Regions from separate parts of the Homo sapiens genome. Here regions 1, 2, 3 and 5 are each linked to region 4. The links come from fine-mapping of genetic effects on gene expression. A gene starts in region 4. Each other region holds a variant in brackets. All regions are shown on one strand. Distances are between the middles of the regions. Region 1 overlaps CARD8 (caspase recruitment domain family member 8). Region 2 holds the start of LIG1-AS1 (LIG1 antisense RNA 1). Region 3 overlaps ZSWIM9 (zinc finger SWIM-type containing 9). Region 4 holds the start of PLA2G4C (phospholipase A2 group IVC). Region 5 overlaps CARD8 (caspase recruitment domain family member 8).

The links. PIP is the estimated chance that this variant, and not a neighbour inherited with it, causes the effect.
Region 1: its variant is fine-mapped to the expression of PLA2G4C in lymphoblastoid cells (TwinsUK, PIP 0.95).
Region 2: its variant is fine-mapped to the expression of PLA2G4C in sun-exposed skin (GTEx, PIP 0.97). The same link has a PIP of 0.9 or more in sigmoid colon and unexposed skin.
Region 3: its variant is fine-mapped to the expression of PLA2G4C in pancreas (GTEx, PIP 0.94).
Region 5: its variant is fine-mapped to the expression of PLA2G4C in sun-exposed skin (GTEx, PIP 0.92).

What each region holds. Positions count from the first base shown.
Region 1 is chr19:48,225,532-48,230,531 of GRCh38, reverse strand. It overlaps CARD8 (caspase recruitment domain family member 8), which reads left to right. Exons shown (of 14, transcript NM_001184900.3): 10 at 1-94. Among named protein-coding and RNA genes, the nearest start is that of CARD8-AS1, 28 kb to the left of the region's middle. The variant T/G (reference allele first, on the strand shown) is at 2,338.
Region 2 is chr19:48,145,526-48,151,269 of GRCh38, reverse strand. It overlaps LIG1 (DNA ligase 1), which reads left to right. Exons shown (of 28, transcript NM_000234.3): 7 at 1-38; 8 at 1,060-1,182; 9 at 1,429-1,507. It overlaps LIG1-AS1 (LIG1 antisense RNA 1), which reads right to left and starts at 5,413. Exons shown (of 3, transcript XR_007067281.1): 1 at 5,388-5,413; 2 at 5,152-5,302. The variant A/CA (reference allele first, on the strand shown) is at 2,603.
Region 3 is chr19:48,182,206-48,188,869 of GRCh38, reverse strand. ZSWIM9 (zinc finger SWIM-type containing 9) reads right to left here. Exons shown (of 4, transcript NM_199341.4): 3 at 6,103-6,415. Among named protein-coding and RNA genes, the nearest start is that of ZSWIM9, 15 kb to the right of the region's middle. RefSeq lists a silencer at 242-474 and an enhancer at 2,068-2,127. The variant G/C (reference allele first, on the strand shown) is at 3,759.
Region 4 is chr19:48,107,816-48,114,479 of GRCh38, reverse strand. It overlaps PLA2G4C (phospholipase A2 group IVC), which reads left to right and starts at 3,663. Exons shown (of 17, transcript NM_003706.3): 1 at 3,663-3,993. RefSeq lists an enhancer at 3,688-3,847.
Region 5 is chr19:48,217,767-48,222,766 of GRCh38, reverse strand. It overlaps CARD8 (caspase recruitment domain family member 8), which reads left to right. Exons shown (of 14, transcript NM_001184900.3): 11 at 912-1,037; 12 at 3,755-3,896. Among named protein-coding and RNA genes, the nearest start is that of CARD8-AS1, 35 kb to the left of the region's middle. The variant C/T (reference allele first, on the strand shown) is at 2,026.

The DNA.
Region 1 (5,000 bases), 120 kb before region 4:
CATCACTTCCAACACATTGATCTATTATCACCCCCACCCCGAAGATATTAAGTTCCACTTGTACCTTGTCCCCAGCGACGCCTTGCTAACAAAGGTAAGCTGAGTGATTTAGGAGACCAGAGAAGATGACGATTATATTTCCAGGTTATCCCCTTGGCCCCTCCAGTTCCTCGTGGAACAGAAAGGGCAAGGCATGGTTTTCATGGACAGAAGCAGGAGTCACCCTTCCTGAGGTTCATCCAAGGTGCTGACTCTGGAGCTATGTGCTTCCCTAACCATCTTCAGTAGTGATTCAGTGCTACTGAAAAAGGAAATTCCCTTTTCTGGCTCTCAAGAAGGAGAAAGTTAGTGATTTTGGGGGACCAGCTGACAGAGAAGATGCAGAGATTTTTTCACCAGGTTGTTTTTTTCTTTTTTTAGAGACAGAGTCTTACTCTGTCACCCAGGCTGGAGTGAACTGGCGCAATCTTGGCTCACTGCAACATCCACTTCTCGGGTTCAAGCGATTCTCCTGCCTCAGCCTCTTGAGTAGCTGGGATTGCAGGTGCCCGCCACTATGCCTGGCTAATTTTTGTATTTGTAGTAGAGACGGGGTTTCACCATGTTGGCCAGGCTGGTTTTGAACTCCTGACCTCAGGTGATCCACCTGCCTTGGCCTCCCGAAGTGTTGGGATTACAGGCGTGAGCCACCACCCCTGGCCTCTCACCAAATTTTAAATGGATAATATGTGAATTACACTGACAGGCACACTCACATCTCTGGAGTAACCCTCCTCCTGTTCAGTAGCATCTCCCTCTAATGCACTTATTAAAGGCTCATATTCCCACACTCTCTTCTGAGTTAGTGATGAAGCAGACGTGCTGGTTGCTGTAGCTGCTGTGCACCTGGATAAAGTCCCACTTCTGTCCTTCCAGCCTAGGTGGGGCGATTATGCCAGAAAGATTACATTAAATTGTATCGTCCCCCCGTCTAATGCTCCAACATCCCAAGAATGAGAGGCAGGTGCCTGCCTGTCAGGACTTAGGGTGGTGAGTAACTGTGGGTACTTAAATACAGGAGAAAACATTTTAATCTGAATGATAAAGATGACTATTCCTAGAGTGGGCCAGAAATACATACATTCCAGTGAATTCTTGCATAACTTCTGTTTTCATTCTGAGCCCACCCTTTTCCTATCCTTCACTTAGTGCCTCTTCTTTCATCATTCCCAAATCTCATATGCTTACTTGCTTCATACCTTATTGATATACTAGAAACAAAATGGGATGGAAAAACCTCATTGTTTCACTGTCAGCTCTGTGAGCCTGTTTCTGGCCCGTCTTCACCTATTTCTTTCCTCTGAAACCCAAGAAGCCTCCTTGTTCTTTTTCTTTTCTTTTCTTTTTTTCTTTTTTGAGACAGAGTCTTGTTCTGTTGCCCAGGCTAGAATGCAGTGGCAATTGCGGCTCACTGAAACCTCCGCCTCCCGGGTTCAAGCGATTCTCCTGCCTCAGCCTCCCGAGTAGCTGGGATTACGGATGTGTGCCACCACGTCCTGGTAATTTTTGTATTTTCAGTAGAGGTGAGGTTTCACCATGTTGGCCAGGCTAGCCTTGAACTCCTGACCTAAAGTGATGCACCCACCTCAGCCTCCCGAAGTTCTGGGATTACAGGCATGAGCCACCGCGCCCGGCCGCCTCCCTCTTCGTACACAAGGACACTACTTAACATGAGTCTTGGGTCCCTTTCCCTCTTCCCTTATGTGGGAGCCACACCCGAGGCATCCTCTTTCCCCTCCACCGTCAATCTCTCCTACCCTAGGGCATCACTCCCTTCCACCCGCCAAAATCTAGAATGGCCCCCACATTGGAAATGCTGTCCTTGACTGCTCTCCCTCCTGCAGTCATACTTCCAATTTTTCCCTTATGCTTCTCAATGAATGGATCAACAGCTCCATGTACCCGAAGTCTCCATATTCCTCAGTTCTCACTCTGTTCCCAGATCTCTCTGTGTGGATGACCTTGCCACCCTTCCTTAGAATGGCTCTGTTTAGCGTCACCCAGTCAGTGACTTTGTGTCAACTCATTCTTACCTGGGGTCTCAGTGGAATGCTATTCCACTGACCACGCTCTTCCTTGGAAACACTCTTCTATAACAGCAGTTCCCAACCTTTTAGGCACCAGGAAGTAGTTTTGCAGAAGACCATTTTTCCACAGACCAGGGTGGTGAATGGTTTTGGGATGATTCAAGCACATTAAAGTTATTGTGCACTTTATTTCGATTATTATTACATTGTAATATATGATGAAATAATTACACAACTCACCATAATGTAAAATCAGTGGGAGCCCTGAGCT[T/G]CTTTTTCTGCAGCTAGATGGTTCCATCTGGGGGTAATGGGAGACACTTACAGATCATCAGGCATTAGATTCTCATAAAGGGCGTGCAACCTAGATCCCTTGCATGGGCAGTTCACAGCAGGGTTCACGCTCGTATGAGAATCTGATGCCACTGCTGATCTGACAGGAGGAGCTCAGGCGGTAATGTGAGTGATGGGGAGTGGCTGTAAATACAGATGAAGGTTTGCTCCCTCACTGCTCCTCTCCTGCTGTGCAGCCCGATTCCTAACAGCTCACACACTGGTACTGGTCTGCGGCCCGGGTGTTGGGGATCTCTGCTCTATATGATCCTGCGACACCATATTATCCCAATTTCCCTGTGACTTTTCTTTTCTTTCCTTTTTTTTTTTTTTGTGATGGAGTCTAGCCCTCTCACCCAGGCTGGAGTGCAGTGGTGTGATCTCGGCCCACTGCAACCTCTGCTTCCTGGGTTCAAGTGATTCTCCTGCCTCAGTCTCCTGAGTAGTTGGGATTACAGGCACACACCACCACACCTGGCTAATTCTTGTATTTTTAATAGAGATGGGGTTTCACAGTGTTGGACAGGCTGGTCTTGAACTCCTGACCTTGTGATCTGCCCGCCTTGGCCTCCCAAAGTGTTGGGATTACAAGCATGGACCACTGCTCCTGGCATCTCCGTGACTTTTCTGAGTCTCTCCTCAAATCGCCTCTGCAGGTTCTTGCTCTGAAACCTTCTCTGAATATTGAGTTTCCAGGGCTGAATCTTGGACTCTCCTTTCTCTTTTCTGTCTTCACTGACGGACTTGATGAATTCTTCGTCTCGTAACTGAATTCCCCACAAGCAGAGGATTTCTCAGTCTATATCTCCAGTCCTGAACATTCTCCAGAGCTCCAACTTGGAACCGCCAACCTCCCCTCTCCATATGAGTGTTTATTTGGCATATCTAATTGTATATATTGACTCAACTTTCTCCCTTTAAGCGATTTATTCAACTCTCTTCCCCATTCAGGGTAGAGACTAAATTTCATTGAGTCATTCAAGCCATACTCTAGTGTTCATCTTTAATTCCTCCACTTATTTTCTTTTCTTTCTTTTTTTTTTTTTTTGAGACGGAGTCTTGCTGTGTCACCAGGCTGGAGTGCAGTGGTGCAATCTCAGCTCACTGCAACCTCTGCCTCCCAGGTTCAAGTGAAGTGATTCTCATGCCTCACCGGGATTATGGTGTCTGCCACCACGCCCAGCTATTTGTATTTTTTTATTTTATTTATGTATTTATTTTTTAGTAGAGACAGGGTTCACCGTGTTTGCCAGGCTGGTCTTGAACTCTTGACCTCAAGTGATCTGCCCCCCTCGGCCTCGATTTCTTTTCTTTCCCACATCCAGCATCTCATCAATTTTGATTCTTTTCATTTTCATAGCATAACTTGAACCAGTTTTACTCCGTTCAGCTTCACTGCCAGCTTTAGTGCCATCCACTGCCATTTTTGCTAGAAATATGGATAAAGTCTTCAAGCTTATCTCACTGGTTCCATTGTTTTTCATTTACCACCTATTTTTAAAATCTAGGAACAGGGAGATTTTTTGCAAAATAAGTAATACCCCCATTACATGCAATTGGCCCATACAACAAATCTGCACATGTACTTCTTGAACCTAAAATAAATGATGGGGCTGGGCATGGTGGCTCATGCCTATAATCTCAGCACTTTGGGAGGCCGAGGCAAGCAGATCACTTGAGGCCAGGAGTTCGAGACCAGCCTGGCCAATATGGTGAAACCCCATCTGTACTAAAAATACAAAAAATTAGCTGGATGTGATGGCACATGCCTGTAATCCCAGCTACTTGGGAGGTGGAGGCATGAGAATTGCTTGAACCCAGGAGGCAGAGGTTGCAGTGAGCCAAGATTTTGCCACTGCACTCCAGGCAACAGAACGAAACTCTGTCTTAAATAAATCAATAAATAAAATAAATGTTGGAAAGAAAAAAAATTAAAATTTTTTAATTCTAATACACTTAAAAAATACATTACTACATCACACTTTGGCCAAAGATTCTTTAATGGATTCACGTTACACTTAGAACATGAATCAAATAATTTACTATGGCCTAGAGGCCATGGCTTTTTTTTTTTTTTTTTTTGAGACGGAGTCTTGCTGTGTCCCCCAGGCTGGAGTGCAGTGGGCGTGATCTCAGCTCACTGCAACCTCCGTCTCCCAGGTTCAAACAATTCTCCTGTCTCAGCCTCCTGAGTAGCTGGGACTATAGGCGCACGCCACCATGCCCGGCTAATTTTCGTATTTTTAGTAGAGACACGGTTTCACCATATTGGTCAGGCTGGTCTTGAACTCCTGACCTCAGGTGATCCACCCGCCTCAGCCTCCCAAAGTGCTGAGATTACAGGTGTGAGCCACTGTGCCCAGCTGAAGCCATGACTTCTTGTGACCCTAGAACATCTCAGTTATCCATCTCCTATCACTCTCTTCTCACTCATTATGTTCCAGCACTTCTGTCCTGAATTTTCATCCCTCAAATACTCCAAGAATTCCTGCTTCTGGGCTCTTACCCTTTGTGTTTCCCTTGCAAGACTGGCTCCTGCTCATCTTTCTAGTCTCTTTCTAGTCTTTGCCTAAAGATTTCTGCTTCCGAAAGCCTTTAGTAGGC
Region 2 (5,744 bases), 37 kb before region 4:
CCAGCCCACCACGCCTCCCAAGCCCCTAAAGACCTCCAGTGAGTTTCTGGTCCTCTCCTCCGCCCTGCCCCACCTCCTGATTTTGGGGTCAGAAGTCTTTGGAGGATGATTAATTTAAACAAGGCATAGATTCTCAAACTTATTGCTTAAATGCCGAATCTAGAAGAATAATAGTTTTTATTACTCGGGTTTTTTTTTTTAATTATTATTTTTCCCCATGCATGTGGGAAAGGAGGAAAGAGCCAGCCATTCTTTAAAAAATCTTCCTAGGCCGGGTACGGTGCCTCACACCTGTAATCCTAGCTCTTTGGGAGGCTGAGGTGGGTGGACTACTTGAGCCCAGGAGTTCAAGACCAGCCTGGGCAACATGGCGAAACCCCATTTCTACCAAAAAAAATACAAAAATGACCTGGGTGTGGTGGCACGTACCTGTAGTTCCAGCTACTTGGGAGGCTGAGGTGGGAGGATCGCTTGAGCCCAGGAGGTGGAGGTTGCAGTGACCTATGGTCGCACCACTGCACTCCAGCCTTGGCCACAGAGCAAGAACTCCCCCGCCTCAGACAAAGTAAAAGATAAAAAGTATTCATAGCTTTCAGAAGTCATAGGTGTAAATTAAATGTTATTAATTAAGTTAGACAACCAAACTGAGTTACAGGATTTTAGAGGCTGAAGTTACCCTCTCAGGGTGGTCCAAGTGTCCATGAGGCCCCTGTGTTAGAAACAACACTTGCCGGGAGAATTTTAGGGATACAGAGTTGTATCTGATTTTCTGCAGCTGCTGGGAGGAGTGGGAATATTTTCTTCTCATGACGATGAGATTTCTTTTTACCACTATTCCTAAGTCTCCTATTTCAGGCCAAGTGCTAGAATTCCGCTAGTTAGCACTGAGGAGTAGACAGCAGGCCTGAGATCTCAGCTCAAAGCTAACAGAAAGGAAAAGGGTAGGTGTAGTTATATCTTCCATCTGCAGGGTCAGAATGATCTTGGGGGTAAAAAAAAAGAAAAAAAAAGTCTCAGGGTCAAAGAGTTTGCATCACCGTCTGAGCTCTCTCACCGCAGAAGCAGAGACCCCGACGGAAAGCGTTTCAGAGCCTGAGGTGGCCACGAAGCAGGAACTGCAGGAGGAGGAAGAGCAGACCAAGCCTCCCCGCAGAGCTCCCAAGACGCTCAGCAGCTTCTTCAGTGAGTTTCCCTTGCTCACCCCACCTCCCGGGGTTGTACAGGCAGGAGGCTGGTGAGCCTCTCTCCAGAGGCCTGAGATGCTGCGAAGACCCTTCTTCCTTTCCTGCTGGTTGGAAAGTCGGCCTTGTCTCTACCAGCCTGTCTCCCATCTCCCTGAGCACTGGGGTGGTGCTGGGTGCAGAATGGATGGGAGGTGGGGGCTACCGGAAGGAGAAAAGACCCACTGTTTTCTGTCTTCATTCCTAGCCCCCCGGAAGCCAGCAGTCAAAAAAGAAGTGAAGGAAGAGGAGCCAGGGGCTCCAGGAAAGGAGGGAGCTGCTGAGGGGTGAGTCAGTGTCCAGGTCTGGAAAGGTTCTTCGGGATGTGTTCCCTTCTCTGCATTCCGACAGCCCCACCCCCAGCTCAGGCTTCCTCCTCTTGCAGGACTTGGCAAACCTTTTCTATAAAGAGCCAGAGAGTAAATATTTTAGGCTTTATGGGACACATTTGGCCCCTGTTGCAAAACCATTCTTAGATCCCAGAACCTGTAGAAACGGTCCAGGGTCGGAGTTTGCTGACCGTGGCCCCAGCCACCCTCTGACCCTGCCTCCAGTCTTTCATCCTCAGTCTGATCCCCGTAGAGCCTGGGGGATCTTTCTAACACCCAGAGTTGACTCTGCCCCTCTAGGGTTCCCCAGAGCCGTCAGGAGAAAATCTAAGCCCATTTGGCCACTGGCTGCCACCTCCCTCTCTGGCCTCACTTCCTACCTCTCTGTTCCTCTGGCTCTGAACTCACCAGATTTTTTATTTTTGAGACAGAGTCTTGCTCTGTCGCCTAGCCTGCAGTGCAGTGGTGCTGTCTCAGCTCACCACAGCCTCCACCTCCCAGGTTCAAGCGATTCTCCCAGGTAGCTGGGATTACAGGTGCATGCCACCACACCCAGATAATTTTTGTATTTTCAGTAGAGACACAGTTTCACCGTATTGGTCAGGCTGGTCTTGAACTCCTAGCCTCAGGTGACCCACCCACCTCGGCCTCCCAAAGTGCTGGGATTACAGGCGTGAGCCAGTACACCTGGCCTGAACTCACCAGATTTAGTGTATGTGCTGGAAGCCTGCAGGCGCGTCTACTCTGCCTTAAAATTCACTGAACACCCCTTCTTTGCCAGCCCTGGGCGGCCCACGAGGATGAACCATAGAGAGCCGGCCGCCCTGCCCCAGCCCTCGTGATGTGCTTAGTGTGCTGGGGCTGTGGGACACTGAATAGGTTGTTAAGCAATTAATTGCTTCACTGTAATTTTGTTAATTATTTGAAGAGATGTCTGGGCTGATTCCCACGACATCTAACATGCACACAGGAGGCCGCACTGAAGACTGGCTGAATGGATGATTGGATGCGTGGGTGGATAAATATCCTATAAAGTAATGAGGTCACCCCCCC[A/CA]TCTCTGCCATGCTCAAAACCCATCTGCGATTCTCCCCAGCATAGAGGATATGCTGGGCTTCCCAGTGCCCTCATGAGCCAGCCCTGTCCACCTTACATTGCAGCCTCCTGGCATCTGCAGCCTTTTCCTGCTCCCTCTGCACACCATGTCCCCACGTGCTGTCATTCCTCCCTGCTTTTTTTTTTTTTTTTTGAGATGGAATCTCACTCTGTTGCCCAGGCTGGAGTGCAGTGGCACGATCTCAGCTCATTGCACCTTCAACTTCCCAGGTTCAAGCGATTCTTCTGCCTCCACATCCCAAGTAGCCAGAATTACAGGTGCCTCGCCACCAAGCCTGGCTAATTTTTGTATTTTTAGTAGAGACCGGGTTTCACCATGTTGGCCAGGCTGGTCTCGAACTCCTAATCTCAGGTGTTCTGGCCGCCTCAGCCTCTCAAAGTGCTGGGATTACAGGCGTGAGCCACCACACCCAGCCTCCTCCCTGCTTCTGAACATGCTTGACCCCGGCCTACAACACTGTCCCTAACCCACCCTGCCCAGCAGGCTTCCCTCAGGCCCCAACTCCTATTGCACCTGCTTAGGGAAGCCGGGTGCCTCTCCCTTCATGTGTGAGAGGAGGTGCGTGTCCCCAGCACTTGAGTCAGACTGTCTTTTATGTCTTGTCACATGGTAAAGAGCCTCCCTAACCAGACATAAGCTCCTTCCCACAGAGCCAGGGCTGTGGGAGGTCCCAGCCTTCTTAGTCTTCTTGCCTAGCTCCCAGCACTGGGGCTGGCCCCTAGGAAGCCCAGGAAATCTGCCATGAAAGAAATTTAAATGAGCACTTTCAGATTTTTTTTTTTCACTAGTCAATCATGGACTCATTTATTTACTCAGTAAGTATTTACAAAGGACTGATTACGTGTTAGCTACTGGATTTTAGGTGCCTGAGATCTGGTAGGAAACAAATCAGACAAAAATTCCTCTTTATAGAACTTAGGTTTTTTGGGTTTTTTGTTTTTTGTTTCTTGTTTTTTTTTTTAAAGACAGGGTCTTGCTCTGTTACCCAGGCTGGAGTGCAGTGGTGCTCCTGGGCTCGGGATCCTCCCACCTCAGCCTCTCAAGTAGCTGGAACTACAGGCATGTACCACCATGCCGGGCTAATTTTTGTTTACTTTTTGTAGAGATGGGGTCCTACTACATTGCCCAGGTCGAGCTCCTGGACTCAAGTGATCCTCCCACCTCAGCCTCCCAGAATGCTGGAATTACATGCATGAGCCACCACGGCCAGCCTGATTTCTTACATAATCATATATCCATCTGAAGTTATTTTTTTCCTCTAAAGATTGTGTTTTCAAATACAATGTGATGGTGTTAGCAGCGTGGACTTCATCCCCTCTTGAATTCTTGATGTCCTGAAAGCTAAAAAAAAATTAACGGAAAAGGGGTTTGGAATAATCCCTGCTGTTCAGCAGAAAGGACAGGTGGGTTAAAAAGTATGACGCAGTGAGTCCAAAATCTCTTTGATGTCACGCCTCTACAAATGAAACAGATAACGACAAGAAATTCTTTCAGCTTTAACATTTCATGATTACAGTTTAAGTCTAACAAAAAAGTGTTCGGAGGATTCTTGACATCAATTTTGTACCCCCAATTGAGACCTTATCAAGGAGGTTAAATAGCACGTTAACGTCCTCTCTGCAGTATTCCTGTGGAGGAAGGGAGCACTTTAGCCATTTTACACACATTGACATGATTAGCCCAGAGAGGTTAGGTCGGGCCTCGCCAGGTCACACAGGGAGGTGGGGGTAGGGCCAGGCCTGGGACCCTAAGGAATGTTTTTGATTCCTAGCAGTTATTTCTTCCCCATTGCCATATCGTGCCTCCTGAGTGTGTGTCCGTGTTTGTGTATTTATAAATATGTTTTCCAAATAAAATCAGTGTCCTACTGTATATAAAGTTCTGTTTTCTATTTCAAGTGATACTACGACTGCTTTTCTTTCTTTTGAGACGGAGTTTTGCTCTTGCTGCCCAGGCTGGAGTGCAGTGGCACGATTTCAGCTCACCGCGACCTCCACCTCCCGGGTTCAAGTGATTCTCCTGCCTCAGCCTCCCAGGTAGCTGGGATTACAGGCATGCGCCACCATGCCCGGCTACTTTTGTATTTTTAATAGAGACAGACACTTTTTTGTTAGACTTAAACTTTAATCATGAAATGTTAAAGCTGAAAGAATTTCTTGTCGTTATCTGTTTCATTTGTAGAGGCATGACATCAAAGAGATTTTGGACTCACTGCGTCATACTTTTTAACCCACCTGTCCTTTCTGCTGAACAGCAGGGATTATTCCAAACCCCTTTAATTTCTCCATGTTGGCCAGGTTGGTCTCAAACTCCCGACCTCAGTGATCTGCCTGCCTCGGCCTCCCAAAGTGCTGGGATTACAGGCGTGAGCCACCACGCCAGGCATGACTGCTTTTCTTGCACCATTCCTAGCCTGGTCACTTCCCCTCTGTCTCCAATGGCTGCCTCCAAGAGACAGGCAAACTTTCCCACTCTCCAATTTCCTCACCTCTCAGATGGGGGCACAGTGATGAGAGGAAGCATGTTCTTCCACCCACTCTTCCCCACGTGCCAGGCACTCAGCAACGGGCTTTCCCTGACGCAATGCTCCAAATCCTCACAACACTGCTGGGAGTAGATTCTGTTGTTATCCTGGTTTCCTGGGTGAGAAAAGTAAAGCGGGGAGGTGGGACAGTATTGAGGACTGGCTAGGAATCCCAGCTCCACCTCTCTCAGCTGTGTGACCTTGAGGAAGTGACTTAGCCTTTCTGTGTCTCTCTTCTGAGGATGTGAAACACTTAGCCCAGGGTCTGGCCTTGATTATGACCAGCATGTTGTCACGGTAACTGCTGCTACTATTCTTATTTGTTTTTAATGCCATGCTCAGGCCACACAGGTGGGGAGTGGCAGCATTGTGGTTCTAGCCAGGCTGACTGGCTCTAGACTCCCCTGCCCACCACACTCTGCTGCCTCATTGTAATGCCGGCCACCGCTTGTTAAACCCCAAGTTCATACCAAAGGCCATGCACAGCCCTGCAGTGGCACTATCTGTCTTGGCCATCCATGCCCTGTGTGAGCATCAGAATCAGCTGAAGAGCTGAA
Region 3 (6,664 bases), 74 kb before region 4:
TTAGTAGAGACGGGGTTTCACCATGTTAGCCAGGCTGGTCTCGATCTCCTGACCTCGTGATCCACCCGCCTCAGCCTCCCAAAGTGCTGGGCTTACAGGTGTGAGCCATCACGCCTGGCCCCATTGAGTATTCTTAAAAGGGATACACTTGCATCAATGCTCGCCATTCTCAGAAGGCAAAGCATACACGTAAGAGAACGCTGCAACGTTTCCGGGCAAGGTCTCTCTTTTCAGGGCTTGCTTGCTGGTTACCCTGGTGCCTGCCACAAGTGAGGGAATGGAGATGTGACTGGACCCCAAAGCCCATCATCATCAGGCAGGGCAGGTGATAAAAGGTGTTAAAGGTTGGGTGCGGTGGCTCACGCCTGTAATCCCAGCACTTTGGGAGGCCGAGGCAGGCAGATCACCAGGCCAGGAGATCGAGACCATTCTGGCCAACATGATGAAACCCCATCTCTACTAAAACACACACACACAAAATTAGCCAGGCCTGGTGGCGCACGCCTGTAGTCCCAGCTACTCAAGAGGCTGAGGCACAAGAATCACCTGAACCTGGGAGATGGAGGTCGTGCTGAGCCAAGATTGCGCCACTGCACTCCAGCCTGGGAGACAGAGCGAGACTCCATCTCAAAAAAAAAAAAAGGTATTAACACCTCCCTGGGTGAAGTCGCCCCCCAGTCTTGCCCTTAAATCATGCCTTGTGGCTTTGGGCGCATCCTTCTTGTCTGATCCCCTCCAAAGATCAAGAGAGCAACCCAACTCAGGAAGTGCAGGCACTTTTTACAAATAATCCTTCCTTTGGAAGACTGCTGGGAAGTGGAAAGACTGATTGTTGCTTGACCTAGGCTTGGGATGAAAATTTAAAGCTTGCTGTCTGTCTGTCTATCTATCTATCTATCTATCTATCTATCTATCTATCTATCTATCTATTTAAAGGGTCTCACTCTGTTGTCAAGGCTGGAGTACAGTGGTGTGATCATAGCTTACTGCAGCCTGAAGCTCCTGGGCTCAAGCAACCCTCGTGCCTCAGCCTCTTGAGTAGCTGGGACTACAGATGCATGCCACCATGCCTAATTTTTTTTTTTTTAATTTTTTGTAGAGACAGGTGCTCGTTATGTTGGCCAGGCTGGTCTTGAACTCCTGGGCTCAAGTGATCCTCTCGCTTCGGCCTCCCAAAGTGCTGAGATTACAGGTGTGAGCCATCGCACCTATTATATTATCAATATTACATGTTATGCGTTACATATTATAATATTAATATAATATATAATATTATATTATATAATATATAATATATATAATATTATATATAATATATATAATATAATATAATAATAATATAATATATAATATATATAATATAATATAATATATTATAATATAATATATAATATATATAATATATATAATTAATATATAATATATAATATATATAATATAATATAATATATAATTATAATATATAATTAATATAATATATTAATTATTACATTATACTGTTATATTACTACTGTATTATTAACATAATAATATAGAACTCTTTCATTAGATTTTATAAGTGAAAAAAAGGTGAAATTTCTGTGTAAAAGTGATGGATTGAACACCTCTCTAGTTTCACTCTCTCTTGAACCTCAATTACATCTTTTTTTTAAAATGGCTTTTTTTTTTTTTTAAATCAGAGGCAATATGATAGGGACAGAACTTTGGAAACTGGAAAGCAGCTGGACATGCTAATCCCACCCCACCCCTAAAAACCCATGAATCCTAAGCCAGCAATTGAGGGATGCTGAGAACCGGTAGCAAAGTCCTCAAAAGGAGCTGGCAACACCAGGCCAGTTTTGCAGAAGGCAAAATAAAGACGAACTGAGGGCTGTTTCAGCAGCAGCTAGACCTCCAAATCTCGTTTCCCCTCTCCCCTTACTCTTCCCCCACCCCCAGTGACTGGGGGTTTATTCTGTAGACAGGGTGAAACAGAAAGGGGCCGCTGGCTTTGGGGACATCTGGCCCATCTGAAGATGAGGGAGGGGGATTCTGAACCCCAAGTGGGTACTGAGTGCGTCTTGCTGGCTGAATGCCTGACAGCTCCCTGCCTCTGCCCCTGCAGCTCCCAGAAGCTGGCAGCCTGGCCCTGGCAGCCTGGCCTTCACCCCCCGCCAGGAGGCCAGAGGAGTTTTCTCAGGGGGATTTGACCAGCCCCAGAGGAAGAACGAAAGATGGTGACATCTGGCACTCCCCAACGTATAAAGCAAGATGCAAAACAGCATGTACAGGCCGGGTGTGGTGGCCCCGACCTGTAATCCCAGCACTTCAGGAGGCCAAGGTGAGTGGATCACTTGAGGTCAGGAGTTTGAGACCAGCTTGGCCAACATGGTGAAACCTCGTCTCTACTAAAAATACAAAAATTAGCCAGGCATGGTGGTGCATGCCTATAGTCCCAGTTACTCAGGAGGCTGAGGCAGGAGAATCACTTGAGCCCAGGAGGTGGAGGTTATAGTGAGCCAACAGCGTGCCACTGCACTCCAGCCTGGGTGACAGGAGTGAAACCCTGTCTCAAAGAACAAACAAACAAACAAACAAAAACAGCGTGTACACTAGGCTGCCCTGCTTGCTGGGGGTGGGGGGTGGCGGGGCAGAAAGAGGAAATAAAGTTAAAAATTAAAGTTAAACATACAGACATGCAAATTGACCTGTATATGTGCAGAGCTGCGCTGTCCAATCCAGAAGCCACTAGCTACATTAGGTTGTTTACATTTCGATAAATTAAATGACAAATTCAGTTCCTCAGTCATACTGGCCTCATTAAGCATTCTGTAGCCATGTGTGGCCAGTGGCCTCTGGATTGGACAGTACAGATAAGAACCATTTTCTTTCTTTTTATTTTTTTAGACAAGAGTGTCACTCTGTTACCTAGGCCAGAGTACAGTGGCATAATCTCAGCTCACTGCAACCTCTGCCTCCTGGGTTCAAGCGATTCTTGTGCCTCAGCCTCCCGAGTAGCTGAGATTACAGGCACCTGCCACCATGCCTGGCTAATTTTGAATTTTTAGTAGAGATCAGGTTTTGCCATGTTGGCCATGCTGGTCTCGAACTCCTGCCATCAGGTGATCCATCTGCCTCAGAGTCCCAAAGTGCTGGGATTACAGGTGTGAGTAACCATGCCTAGCCTGGATAAGGAACATTTCTATCATTGTAGAAAGTTCCACCGGGCAGTGCTGGTCCATAGGATAGAAAGCGAGATATGATTTATAAGCTGCTAATAACTCTGCAGGGGAGGGGACCTGGGGGACAGGATGTGATAAGACTTTTCACCACATACCTTTTTTAGAACCATGTGAATGTATGACATATTCAAAAAGTAAATATTTAAATGTTGCTTCACTAATCTGTCTCTCCTGTCCTAGAACTTCTTCCTCCTTTCTTTCAAGAGCATTAAGGGGCTGGGCACGGTGGCTCATGCCTGTAATCCCAGCACTTTGGGAGGCCAAGGCGGGGGGATCACCTGAGGTCAGGAGTTCAAGACCAGCCTGACCAACATGGAGAAACCCCGTCTCTTCTAAAAACACAAAAATTAGCATGGTGGCGCATGCCTGTAATCCCAGCTACTCAGGAGGCTGAGGCAGGAGAATCGTTTGAACCCGGGAGGCGGAGGTTGCGGTGAGCCAAGATTCCGCCATTGCACTCCAGCCTGGGTGACAAGAGCGAAACTCCGTCTCAAAAAAAAAAAAAAAAAAAGTATGAAAGCAGGTCAAAACACAGAC[G/C]CAGGAGCCAACCGTGGTTTAGCCGAGATTCCAAGACAGCCTTCAAAATGAAAAGACAACTCCCCTTCCAGGGAAGGCTCTGATCTATGAATGAGCTGTTCTGCACAGGGACAATCCTGCAGAGGGTGGGTTCAGGGAAGAACAGCTGAGGCTTATTTATGTCATGGTGGGTAGTGGAGGAGAGTTACTAGATCAGCAAAGACCAGTGGAGTAGGAAGTGCATGTGTGTTTGTCCCCATGGTGAAGGTCATGGGTCTGGATCCAGGCTGTGTGGGTCCGAAGCCCAGCTCTGTCACTAAATAGCTGTGTGACTTTGAGCCAGTTACTTGACTTCTCTGTGCTTCAGTTTCCTTGTCTGTAAAATGGGGATGAGAATGGTGGACTATTTCCTCATAGGGCTCAGGTGAGATGAAAATGAGTTATAGTATGTAAAGCACTTAGGGTAGTGCCTGGCATATAGTAAGTGCTTGATAAACATTAGCTAAAATTATTATTATGTCGGGACAGAGGCCTGGGCTTGGGCTGGTGGCTTGAATCAGGGCTTCTTACTGGGCATGAGATGAAGACAGGAAGAGTGTGCCAGAGCTGAATCTCGACTTTACCCTGCCTTGGGACCTCTTCCACACACAAGGGAGACAAAGGCACAGCCAGGAGGAGAAACCAGTTCTTCCCCTACTTTCTCATCTTTCTTTCCTCTTTAAACTTCAAGTTCACCCCAAACTTGAAGTTGGATTAAAGCCGCAGAGATTCCTTATGGAGCAGCAGCCATCCTCACTGTTCCTCCAACACAAGCTTGCTCGTGCCTCTGGGCCTTTGCACTGGCTGTTCCTTCTGCCTAGAATTCTCTTCCCTCTGATGACAGAATGAGGGTCCCTTGCCTCTGTTCCATCTCCTCTGCTTCACCATCATTTGCTAAAGAGACCTTCCCTGACCAATTCAAACAGCACCCTTAGAACTGTCCCGCTCCAGGCCCCGGCCTTTTTCTCCTTGATGATAACTTATCGCTCCATCACATTACAGGACATAGCACTCTTCCTTCTCCTAATTCTCCATCTGCATGGTGGGTTCAGGTGTGTTCTCCCCTTGAGAACATTCATCAAACTAAGTATTTATCATTTGTGCATTTTCTGTTTGTGCAGTTCAATTAAAAAAAAAAAAATTTAAGTAGGCCTGGCGTGGTGGCTCATGCCTGTAATCCCAGCACTTTGGGAGGCCGAAGCAGGACTGCTTCAGTCTGGGAGTTCAAGACTAGCCTGGGCAACATAGGGAGACCCCCCCCCGCCAAACATCTCTACAAAAACTAAAAAATTAGCTGGGTGTGGTGGTGCACGCCTGTTGTCCCAGCTGCTCGGGAGAATGAGGTGGGAGGATTGCTTGAGCCTGGGACATCGAGGGTGCAGTGAGCCATGACTGCACCACTGCACTCAGCCTGGGTGACAGTGAGATCCTGTCTCAAAAAAAAAAAAGATTAAAAAAAAAAAACTTACATAGCATTTGTCATCACTGTGGCTCCCCTTCTTGCTAGCACCCAGCCAGCCCCTAGTGATGTTACATCATATTTGGACATGTTTGTCAGTTGTTGGTTTTTCCCGCCAGAACTGCAGGGGCGTTCTGGCAGTTACCTCTGCAAGGCAGCCAATAGCCATAGGTGGCTATTTAAATTTCAATTAATTAGAATAAATTCAGGCCGGGCGTGGTGGCTCTCGCCTGTAATCCTAGCACTTTGGGAGGCCGAGGCGGGCGGATCACAAGGTCAGGAGATCGAGACCATCCTGGCTAACATGGTGAAACCCCGTCTCTACTAAAAATACAAAAAAATTAGCCGGCGTGGTGGCACGCCCTGTAGTCCCAGGTACTCGGAAGGCTGAGACAGGAGAATCGCTTGAACCCGGGAGGCGGAGGTTGCAGTGAACCCAGATCGCACCACTGCACTCCAGCCTGGGTGATAGAGCACTCCAGCCTGGGTGACAGAGTGAGACTCCGTCTCAAAAAAATTAATTAATTAATTAATTAATTCAGTTCCTCAGTGTACTGGACACATTTCAAGTGCTCAGTAGCCACTTGTGGCTGGGGGTGCAGAATCACAGAACGTTTCCATCCTGGAAGAAAGTTCTACTGGGCAGCACTACCCTAGAAGGTAAGCTCTCTGCGGACAGAGACCACGTGGGTCTGGTTTGCTGCTGCATCCCCAATGCCTCGGTAAGTACTTATTGAATGAATGAACGGATGAATGGAGGAAAGGAGTGAAGGGATGAGAGGGCGGATGAAGGCATGAATGACCCACGAGTCTTCAGCGCGGCTTTCCCCCGCCCCCTCCCCCGGCCTGCCTCTCTCGAGACCCCACCTTGGCCTCGGGGTCGGTGCGGAAGAGGCCCTCGAGCACGTGCAGGGCGTCCAGGACGCCGTGGTCGCGGCCCTTGCAGTAGGACAGCAGGCGGCGCACGTCGGCTGGGGCCACGAACTGCTTGGAGATCTTGTTGGTGGTGCGCACCGGCAGGCAGGCGTTGGCCAGCAGGTGGCCCGGGCGGAAGTAGTAGGCGAACTCCAGCGGGCAGGCCGGGTGTGAGTGGGTCAGCTGGCACTCCGTCACCACGAGGCGGTCCCGCAGCGGGCTCAGCTTGACGATGATGAAGGCGGGGCAGCCGGGCTGGGGAGGCCTGTGGGAGGAACCACCACCGCCCTGGTCACATCACTCTGCTGCCCTCTTCTTCCTTTCCACTCACCTTTTTTTTTTTTTTAAACTAAGAATTGTTTCAGGCATAGAGAAGAGTAGAGGGCCCTAAGAATATGCCAGCTGTGTGACCTGGGGCAAGTCACTTCAAGTCTCTATGCCTCAGTTTCCTCATAGGTTACAAGGAAGGTCCTACTCATCATACCTTCCTCATAGGATCGTCATGAGCATGAAA
Region 4 (6,664 bases):
AAGTACTCAAGTGGTTACATTTAGGGCCCCCTGGATGATCCAGGATAATCTCATTTCAGGATCCTAACTCAATCCCAAAGTCCCTTTAGTCACATAAGATCACACATTCACAGAGGCCAGGCACAGTGGCTCACGCCTTGGGGAGGACTTGGGGAGGCTGAGGTGGGAGGATCACTTGAAGCCAGGAGTTCAAGACTAGCTTGTCCAACACAGCCAGACTTCATCTCCTCTAATTTTATTAATAAAATTAATAAAAATGTAAAAGGGCCAGGCGCGGTGGCTCACGCATGTAATCCCAGCACTTTGGGAGGCTGAGGCAGGTGGATCACCTGAGGTCAGGAGTTCGAGACCAGCCTGGCCAACATGGCAAAACCCCGTCTCTACTAAAAATACAAAAATTAGCTGGGCATGGTGGCGCGTGCCTGTAATCCCAGCTACTAGTGGGGTGAGGCAGGAGGATCACTTGAATCTGGGAGACAGGTTGCAGTGACCCGAGATCGTGCCACTGCATTCCAGCCTGGGCGACAGAGCGAGACTCCATCTCAAAAAAAAAAAAAAAATAGGTCACATCAAAGGTTTCAGCGATTAAGACCTGGATATCTATGGGGGCTGTTATTATTGCAGCCACCCCACATGGGATGATATGTTAGAGGAAAACCATCGGGAAATGGTCAGACAAGGCAAGCAGGATGCCTGGAACACCCACCCAGCCCTGGGCACCACGGGGCTGGCTTGGGGAAAACGGCTGCACGCGGAGCGGGGCCCAGGCTCGGGTCTTCCAGAGCAGGAGGCCTCTAACCCCGGGGCCCAGCGTGGAACAGGAGCTTCCGGGCATGAGAGTGTCAGGGTGTCCTGATACTCCCGCAGGGGGGACACAGGGCTCCCAGCTGTCCCCTGCCCCTCACACTCTGTTTCTGCCTCTCACATCTGCCCTCCCTCCTTCCCTTCTCTCTCATCAGGTTCCTCTGCCCTTGTCTCCCACCCGCCCTCTCTCCCCTTCCTTCTCTATCTGCGAGGCTTTGCTCTCTGCCGTGCAAGTCTGTGCCAGGCTTACTTTGCTGTCTGTCACTGTGACTCAGCCTCCCTGTCTCTCTTCCTGTGTCTCCATCATGGTCTCTTGTGCACACAATCTCTTGGGCATTCTGTTTCTATTTGTTGTAGCCCAAGAAGACAACATTGCCTTCCGAGTCTCCTTGGGGCTAGCAGTGGCCCTGTAGCCCTGTGTGGGCAGACCCAGGGGACATAAGCACAGGGGCTGCTGGGGACTTCTGGAGAAACATCTTTCCTGACCAAAAAGGACAGCCCTGGTTGTGGCAGCTCCTCCCCTCCTCCTGCCTTGACTAGAGATGATGGCTGGAGCCAAGTCACCACCTTGTAATGATGAGGAAAAAGAGTAACAAACTCTCCTGACGACCCTAAACCGGCGAACCTAGGGCAGCAGCTGCCTAACTGTGGGCTTTTGTTCATGGGAGTAGGGGAAGAATAAGCCCCAGGGCGATTATGCCACTCTAAAACATGGCTTTCAGCCGGGCACAGTGGCTCATGCCTGTCATCCCAGCACTTCGGGAGGCCGAGGCGGGCAGATCACCTGAGGTCGGGAGTTCAAGACCAGCCTGACCAACATGGAGAAACCCCGTCTCCACTAAAAATACAAAATTAGCCGGGCGTAGTGGCACATGCCTGTTACTCCCAGCTACTCAGGAGGTTGAGGCAGGAGAATCGCTTGAACCCGGGAGGAGGAGGTTGCAGTGAGCCGAGATCGAGCCATTGCACTCCAGCCTGGGCAACAAGAGCAAAACTCCGTCTCAAAAAAAAAAAAAAAAAAAAAAAAGACTTGTTTCTCATAGCTAAGAGTTCCTGATACAGCTCTGCCTTAAAGAACTGGCAAATTAGTGTGCATTTGTGTTTCAATTTCAAATAAAATGTTTAAGGCAAAAAAAAAAAGTAAATGTTGTATGTCAGGGGATCCCCACATTACTGGCTTTGTGTGGAGACCATGGTTCCTTTGGGCTTGGCTCTTCCTCCCTGCACCAGTGCAGGGCCCCAGGAACACATCTGCCACACACGGCCGCCATGTCCCTCTGCTGAAGCTAGTCAGGGTCATCCTCACTCCTCAGTGACCCTCATGATGGCTCCACCAGGTAGGTACTTTTATTCTCCCCATTTAACAGGTGAGGACACTGAGGGGCACAGGGATGTAAGTTACCTTCCCTAGGTCCACTATCTAGGAAGTGGTGGGCCAGGGTTTGGTCCATGCTGTCAGCTCCTTGACCCTGCATCTATAACTACTAACTATACTGTGGAGAGCCTCATGAGCTCCTGCGAGGTGTAGAACCTTATCCCGCAGGCGGGGCAGTGGCATGGTCAGGTCTAGGAGTGAAAAGATCCTGCGATGGTTGGAGTTGCGGGCACTGAAGAGGTGAGCCTGGCGTTAGGGGGAGCAGGGGAGACCATCTTCCCCCTGGTGAAATCCTGTTCTAAAATTGGTGATACTCCTGCCTTGGCCTCCCAAAGTGCTAGGATTATGGCCTCATATCTATTTTTAAAAAATAAGAATTCAAGCTGGGTGCGGTGGCTCGCAACTGTAATCCCAGCACTTTGGGAAGCCGAGGCAGGTGGATCACTTGAGTTCAGCAGTTCGAGCCAGCCTGGCCAACATGGTGAAACCCTGTCTCTACTAAAAATACAAAAATAATTAGCCGGGCGTGGTGGCAGATGCCTATGTTCCCAGCTACTCGGGAGGCTGAGGTAGGAGAATCGCTTGAACCCAGGAGACGGAGGTTGCAGTGAGCCGAGATTGCACCACTGCACACCAGCCTGGGCGACAAAGAGTAAGACTCCATCTCAAAAAAAAAAAAAAAAAATTCAAAACCCATCGAGTTGGGATGACGCTTAGTGCTGGGCTTCAGGAAGAGTAGGCAGGAGGGTAGTATGGGAGGTTTCTAGGAGCCACTCTTGGAAGCGGTGCTCCCCACAGATGCCCGATTGCACTGACTGGAACTCGGTCACATGACCACATAACTCGCTCACATGACCACACCTAGCTGCAAAGGTGCTGGGAAATGTGGTACCCTGTTGGGAGGCCACTTCTGGGCTTCAAACCTTCACTGTGAATGGAGCTCACAGGTTTTCTAAAAATGGACATTAAATGAACCAGAGTTGGCCCTAAGGATCTGGCTCACTGCAACCTCCACCTCCCAGGATGAAGCACCTGCCTCAGCCTCCCGAGTAGTAGCTGGGATTACAGGCACACGCCACCATACCGAGCTAATTTTTGTATTTTTAGTAGAGAAGGTGTTTCACCATGTTGGCCAGGCTGGTCTCGAACTCCTGACTTCACATGATCCGCCTGCCTCAGCCTCCCAAAGTGCTAGGATTACAGGCGTAAGCCACCACGCCTGGCCTCAATATTTCTTTTTCTGGGTATTTGAGTATGATATTATATATGATGGTTATTAGACAGCCAGATGCATAGGAGGATTAGCTAATCTGTTTTGAGGAATACTTATCTCCAATATAGTTATATAACGACAACATTCTTTTTTTGAATACTGGTCTCGGGTGCCTAATGACAGAAGGGTGACATCACTAAGGAAGCCTGGAAAGTCCCAGCCCTCCACGTGATCCCACGGATGAAAATAGCTCCGGGTGAGCTCTGGAACAGCTGAAAAAGCTGGAGCAACCAAGCAGGGCCTACAAGCCGAGGAGGGCTGTTTAAAGGCGCAGGGGCCATTTTACCTCCAGGTTGGCCCTGCTCAGGACCAGGAGGAAACACCTCCAGCCCGCGACCTCCTCCCACAGGGGGAAAAGGAAAGCAGGAGGACCACAGAAGCTTTGGCACCGAGGATCCCCGCAGTCTTCACCCGCGGAGATTCCGGCTGAAGGAGCTGTCCAGCGACTACACCGCTAAGCGCAGGGAGCCCAAGCCTCCGCACCGGATTCCGGAGCACAAGCTCCACCGCGCATGCGCACACGCCCCAGACCCAGGCTCAGGCAAGCCGTGGGGGCAGGGAGGGCTGTTTCATCCCGCTGGGGCGGCCATAACCAAGTACCAGGGATTGGGTGCAATTAAATAACAGGATTTCTTTTTCTTTTTTATTTTATTTTATTTTATTTATTTATTTATTTTTTTTTGAGACAGCATCTCGCTCTGTCGCCTAGGCTGGAGTGCAGTGACGCGATCTCGGCTCACGGCAAGCTCCGCCTCCGGGGTTCAAGCGATTCTCCTGCCTCAACCTCCCGAGTAGCTGGGATTACAGGCGCACACCACCACACCCGGCTAATTTTTGTATTTTTAGTAGAGATGGGGTTTCACCATGTTGGCCAGGCTGGTCTCAAACTCCTGAACTCGTGATCCACCCCACTCGGCCTTCCAAAGTGCTGGGATTACAGGCGTGAGCCACCGCGCCCGGCTAGGAATTTATTTTCTAACACTTCTGGAAGCTAGAAGTCCAAGATCAAGGTGTTGGCAGGGTTGGTTTCTCCTGAAGCCTCTTGCAGAGGCCCTAATCTCTCCTTATAAAACCAATCAGGCTGGGCGCGGTGGCTCACGCCTGTAATCCCAGCCCTTTGGGAAGACGAGGCGGGCGGATCCTGAGGTCAGGAGATCGAGATCATCCTGGCTAACACAGTGAAACCCCGTCTCAACTAAAAATACAAAAAATTAGCTGGGCGTGGTGGCGGGCGCCTGTAGTCCCAGCTACTCCGGAGGCTGAGGCAGGAGAATGGCGTGAGCCCGGAAGGCGGAGCTTGCAGTGAGCCGAGACTGCGCCACTGCACTCCAGCCTAGGGCACAAAGCGAGACTCCATCTCAAAAAAAAATAAAATAAAATAAACCAATCAAACCAAATTCCAGGCCACCCTCAGGACCCCACTTTAACTTAGTCACCCCTTTAAGAGCCTATGTCTGGCCGAGTGCGATGACTCATGCCTATAATCCCAGCGTTTTGGGAAGCCAAGGTGGAAAGCTCTCTTGAGCCTAGGAGTTCAAGACCAGCCTGGGTGACATAACAAGACCTGATCTCTACAAAACATAAAAAATTTAGCTGGAGATGGTAGCATGTACCTGCACTTCCAGCTACTCGGGAGGCTGAGGTGAGAGGCTCGCTTGAGCCCAGGAGGCTGAGGCTGCAGTGAGCCACGATCACACCACTGCACTCCAGCCTGGGTGACAAAGCAAGACCCTGTCTCAAAAAGCAAACAACGAAAAAGAATCCTATGTCCAAATACAGTCACATTCTGAGGTTCTGGGGGTTACAAGTCCAACATATGAATTTGGAGGTGGTGGGGGGAAGCTGATTAATTTCATAAGGGGGGTCTTGAAACTGCCTTCGCAGAAATGTAAGTAATGAGAGAAAGCTAACATGACTGACCATCTTGTTTCTAACCTCACAGGCTAGATTTTTTTTTCTTATTCTAGTGCAGAGGCCAAAATTACCATGAGAGGAATTTAATTCATAGTTAAACTTTGAGACAAAGAAAACTGACCCCCAGTCCTTGTTGAGAGATTGAAGCCACATTCATTTACTTTTTATTTATTTATTTAGTTTTGAGACAGAGTTTCACTCTTGTTGCCCAGACTGGAGTGCAATGGCATGATCTCTGCTCACTGGCACCTCCACCTCCTGAGTTCAAGTGATTCTCCTCCCTCAGCCTCCTGAGTAGCTGGGATTACAGGCGCCCGCCATCATGCCCAGGTGACTTTTGTACTTTTAGTAGAGATAAGGTTTCACCATGTTGGCCAGGCTGGTCTCCAACTCCTGACCTCAAGTGATCCTCCCACCTCGGCCTCTTAAGGTGCTGGGATTACAGCCATGAGCCACTGTGCCTGGCCTGAAGTCACATTCATAAGACAAGGTTAGAATCATGAAGGTGCTGGAACTTTGCTAAAGAACAGTCGTGGGTTGAAGAATGACCTGCCATCCCTTAGCTTCCTTTTCTATATGTGCTCCAGAGTCACGTAACCAGGGGTCGCATGATTTATAACTTCCCCAGCTACTTCTATAAATAATATCACTGTCGTGAAACACAGAACTCAGCTTTTTAGTGGGGTGTGGTAGCTAACACCTGTAATCCCCACTTCTTGGGAGGCTGAGGCAGGAGGATTGCATGAGCCCGGGAGAATGAGACCAGCCTGGGCAACATAGTGAGACCTCAATCTCTACAAAAAAATTAAAACTTTGCCAGACGTGGTGGTGCATGCCTGTAGTCCCAGCAACCCAGGAGGCCAAGGCAGGAGGATTGCTTGAGCCCAAGAGTTGGAGGCTGCAGTGAGCTATGATTGCGCCACTGTAGGGACCAGCCCTGCAGGGTCTGTGGGTCTTTCTCCCCATGTGCGGAGACGAGAGATCGTAGAAATAAAAACACAAGACAAAGAGATAGAAGAAAAGACAGCTGGGCCTGGGGGACCACTACCACCAAGACGCAGAGACCGATAGTGGCCCCAAATGCCTGGCTGCGCTGTTATTTATTGGATAATAAGGGGCAGAGTAAGGAGTGTGAGTCATCTCCAATGATTGATAAGGTCATGTGAGTCACGTGTCCACTGGACAGGGAGCCCTTCTATGTTAGGTAGCCAAGGCGTAGAGAGAGAGGATAGCTTATGTCATTATTTCTTTTATGTTCTTTTCAGAAAGATCAAAGACTTTAATATTTTAATACTTTC
Region 5 (5,000 bases), 110 kb before region 4:
CCAAAGGTAGAAAGGTTTTGTTTGAATTCCATTCTGTGTCTTTGATGGCTGCTCAGATAGATTTTTTTTTTTTTTGGTGAGACAGAGTCTCGCTCTGTCGCCCAGGCTGGAATGCAGTGGCGCAATCTCGGCTCACTGCAATCTCTGCCTCCTGGGTTCAAGTGATTCTCCTGCCTCAGCCTCCAGAGTAGCTGGGATTACAGGCGCCCGCCACCACGCCCGGCTAATTTTTATATTTTTAGTAGAGACGGGGTTTCGCCATGCTGGCCACGCTGGTCTCAAACTCCTGACCTTGTGATCTGCCCACCTCGGCCTCCCAAAGCGCTAGGATTACAGGTGTGAACCACCGTGCCTGGCTGCTTAGAGATAGTTTTGAGGTCTCGCTTTCTGCTGTGGCTGCTGGGCCTCGCAGAGGTGACTGTTTCTGCTCGCTGGTGGTCAGGTGATTGAGCATCTCACAGCAGCCCTGTGACGGAGAGAAGTAACATCTCTACCCTTGTCCATCATAGACGTGTTCACAGACACAGCTGAGCTACCAGTTCTCTGCTGAGGCACCAAAAAGAAGTCCTTCTGTCCTGTGCTTTCATAAGTACGCAGCCAATCTTTCCACAGTGTAAAAATAAAAGCAAACTATACAAGAATTTATAAGTTCACATTCACAAGAAATCCTTTGGCCCTGAGATATCTTTCAGTAAAATTTCATCAATATGTCTCTTTGTGCATAGAGACATATTCATTCATATCTGTGTATCTACCTATCACAATCTTTATATCAGTTGAATACCTTAATCTTTATATCAATTGAATCATAGCCTACGTGCTACTTAATATACCATATAAATAACTTTTTATGCCACTACTTGCTTTACTATTTTTTGTGCTCTCTAATGTTTCTGCCCCTTCTTCCTTAGGCGATAGATGATGAGGAAGATCGCTTCCATGGTGTGCGCCTGCAGACTTCGCCCCCAATGGAACCCCTGAACTTTGGTTCCAGTTATATTGTGTCTAATTCTGCTAACCTGAAAGTAATGCCCAAGGTTAGTAGAATTCAAACCCAACTCAGCAGGTTTCAGAGTGTTTTATATTTCTGAAACAAATGGAAGAATCTTAGCAAAATGCAACATTTTTCTTTTATTAATCACAAATATGCCCTTTAAAAAAATTGAAATTATAGAAAAATAGTATTAATCATATTGCATATTTCCAAGACCCTAAGGCAGAGGTAACATTTTAGTATTTGACATACTTATGTTAGGTTAAAACTACACATTGAGTTTCCCAAACTGAAATTTCCATTTCCCTGTTATAATTATCTTCAGTCCTGATGTCTTGCCTAACTAACGCACTTAATATGTATTTGTTAAGGTAGTTGAAGGAAGAGCTGATTTTATGTTATATATTTCATTTTATATATTTTTAAATGGAGATTACTATATAATTCTGTGCAATTTAAATTATTCCTACATACAGATTTACTGGGACATGATATGCCATGTAGCGAAATCCCTAGAGCTTTTTTCATTATTTCATGATTATTCAACATTTAGTCGCATGTAATTTCTCCCAAGAAGTGCCCTGGCAAGAAGTCTTTCCATTCATATGGTTTTACATTTTTCCTGCAGGGCTAGAGTGTCCTAAATGAAATTACTGATTCAAAGAGTATTAACCAACTTAAAGCTAGTATATTTCCAAATAGATTTCCTTCCTTCCTTCCTTCCTCTTTCTTTTTTCCCTCTTTCTCTCTTTCTTTCTTTCTTTTTCTTTCTTTCTTTCCTTCCTTCCTTCCTTCCTTCCTTCCTTCCTTCCTTCCTTTCCTTTCCTTTCTTTCCCTCTTTCTCTCTTTCTTTCCTTCTTTTTTGATGGAGTCTCGCTCTGTTGCCCAAGCTGGAGTGCAGTGGTGTGGTCTTGGCCCACTACAACCGCCGCCTCCCAGGTTCAAGTGATTCTCCTGCCTCAGCCTCCTGAGTAACTGGGATTACAGGCATGCACCACCACTCCCGGCTGATTTTTTATTTTTAGTAGAGA[C/T]GGGGTTTCACCATGTTGGCCAGGCTGGTCTCGAACTCCTGACCTCGTGATCTGCCCACCTTGGCCTCCCAAAGTGCTGAGATTACAGGCTCGAGCCACCACACCTGGCCCCAAATAGATTTTCAAAGATGTCTCACAGCATATGTTCTCTAAAATAAAGATGAGGTTGTCCAGCACAATATACCATCTCTAGAACAAAGTATCAAGATTTAATTGTTTTCCAGTTTTAATGGGAAAACACATCCCAGTGATTTCAAGGTCTTTAATTCAGAATGGGACGGACCAATGTTATTGTTTTGGCGTAGATGGCTTTTTCCTGTTTGCGGACCTTGGAAGAGGTGAGAAACAAGAGGGTTAGGTGTCAGTATTTACATGTCTCCTTTTTGGACACTAAGGCTAAAATAGGAAAAATGATTTTTCCAGCCATATAGACAACAAGATGTGAAGCTTATTGCAGACATCAGTTCAGTGATCTTTTTCTAAGTATACTAGAGCATAAGAATTTAATAAAGTGCCCAACCTTGCTCTGATTTTAGTTCCCAGTTTCCTTGATAAACTCCACAGCAATTAATATGAAGCAGGGACTGCCTTCCCCAGAAGTTTGGTTGTCCTTCAGGCAAGATACATTCTTGGCTGTTGCAGAACCTTCCATAAACATTGCTGATATAGAAATAAATAAATAAAATGCAGGGTATTTCATCCAGAATGATACAACATAGTAAATGTGAGATAAGAAGTGGCAATTGCAACCTGAGGTGATAATCTTTTTTTGAGACAGAGTCTTACTCTGTCGCCCAGGCTGGAGTGCAGTGGCGCAATGTCTGCTCACTGCAACCTTCTTTCCCTGGGTTCAAGCGATTCTCCTGCCTCAGCCTCCTGAGTAGCTGGGACTACAGGCACCTGCCACCACGCCTGGCTAATTGTTGTATTTTTAGTAGAGATGGGGGTTTCAACATATTGGCCAGGCTGGTCTTGAGCTCCTGACCTCAAGCAATCGGTCACCTCAGTCTCCCAAAGTGCTGGGACTACAGGTGTGAGTCACCGCGCCCGCCCTAGAGGTGATGATCTTGAGCGAGGTAAACTCTCCTCAGAGTCATCTTCCATTTAAAAAGATTCCAGCCAACAATCTCACCCTTTGTAATTTTTTAAATCCCTATTTTCCAAGAGCTGGGTCGGGGGGCTTGTTTTCTGAAGAAACTAGAGATTTGCATGAGCTAAGCTTTTCCTAATTCTGTCCTGCATAAGGGGCTTTCTTGCTCCCCAGGGCAGCTTTTTTTAGGAATCCTGGGGAGACTGGGTGCAAAACAGAGAGGGACCTGAAATGGCTTATCTGACCCCGGCTTCCCAGCGAGGCTCAGAGAGACCTGATGGGGCTGCTTTGGAAGCTTTCTTGCTTCTCTATAGAATCTCGGATTCTGAGCTGGTCGCATCATTAATGAGGGGCCTCAAAACCCTCAAAATCTAAGACGTTTGTATTCAGTTGGTAGCTCAGATAGTTTTTCTCTGACTCATGTGGTGTTGACAGCTAGGTTATTCTTCCCTTCCTGGTATAAAAGCATTTCCTAACATTGTAAATGTAAAGAGCTGTTTACCTCTCTCCCTCTGTTTCCCACTCAACCAGCCATGACATTGCACAGGAAACGGGTTAAGTTCCATTGGCCAGTTCACTGTAGGGAGCCGGGCCTTTCCACCCTCCACTGCTTCAAGTCAACTGATGTGTTTCCTCTAGGAGTTGAAATTGTCCTACAGGAGCCCTGGAGAAATTCAGCACTTCTCAAAATTCTATGCTGGGCAGATGAAGGAACCCATTCAACTTGAGATTACTGAAAAAAGACATGGGACTTTGGTGTGGGATACTGAGGTGAAGCCAGGTAGGTGAGTGGGCGAGGCTGGCATTTTTAGACAGGGATCCATCATGTACCTCTATCCTTGGATTTCAAAGAAGAAATCTTGTTTATGGTTCTTTCCCAGAGAAGAAAAGAAATCTATTGTCAGTGTTAAAACACATGGACACAGGGAGGGGAACAACACACACTGGGGCCTTTTGGGTGATGTGGGAAGGGAGAACATCTAGATAAATAGCTAAAAGGCCAGATACGGTGCCTCATGCCTGTAAACCCAGAACTTTGGGAGGCCGAGGGGGGAGGATCACCTAAGGTCGGGAGTTCGAGACCAGCCTGCTCAACATGGTGAAACCCTGTCTCTACTAAACATACAAAATTAGCCAGGTGTGGTGGTACATGCCTGTAGTCCTGGCTACGTGGGAGGCTGAGGCAGGAGAATCACCTGAACCCAGGAGGGGGTTGCAGTGAGCCAAGATTGTGCCACAGCAGTCCAGCCTGGGCAATAAGAGCGAAACTCCATCTGAAAAAAAAAAAAAAAAAAAAAGAAGAAGATAAATAGCTAATGCGTGCAGGGCTTAATATCTAGGTGATGATTTGATAGGTGCAGCAAACCACCATGGCACATGTTTACCTTTGTAACAAACCTGCATGTCCTCCACATGTATCCCAGAACTTAAATTAAATTAAAAAAAATAGTTTGAATAAAATAAAATGTTCTTGCCAAAAAAGAAAAAAAAAAGAGAAATCTATTGTCAGTGTATTATCAGTGTGATAACACAACAATGGTGGCATTTGTTCATCTCTAGGAAGTGAAATGCTCAAGGGGCCTGGGAGAGGGGTGGAAACCCTCGAACCTAGGGGGTAAAGAACAGAAGATTCTAAGAGTCAGAAGAAACATAAGGACTATTTAGTTCCACTTTCTTCACAATTTAATCATTTCTTCCATACTCATGCTTTTCATTTTCGGGGTGTCATATTCCCTGAGGTAATCTGTTAAAAAGTTCTGGAAAATGTTTTATCCATTCACAGAAGCTCAACATCATAAACACAATTTTTTAAAGTTTAGAAACTCCCAGACAATTTGCCAAAGATCTCCTGATAGTTCCTTGAATCTCTGGAGATACATTTATA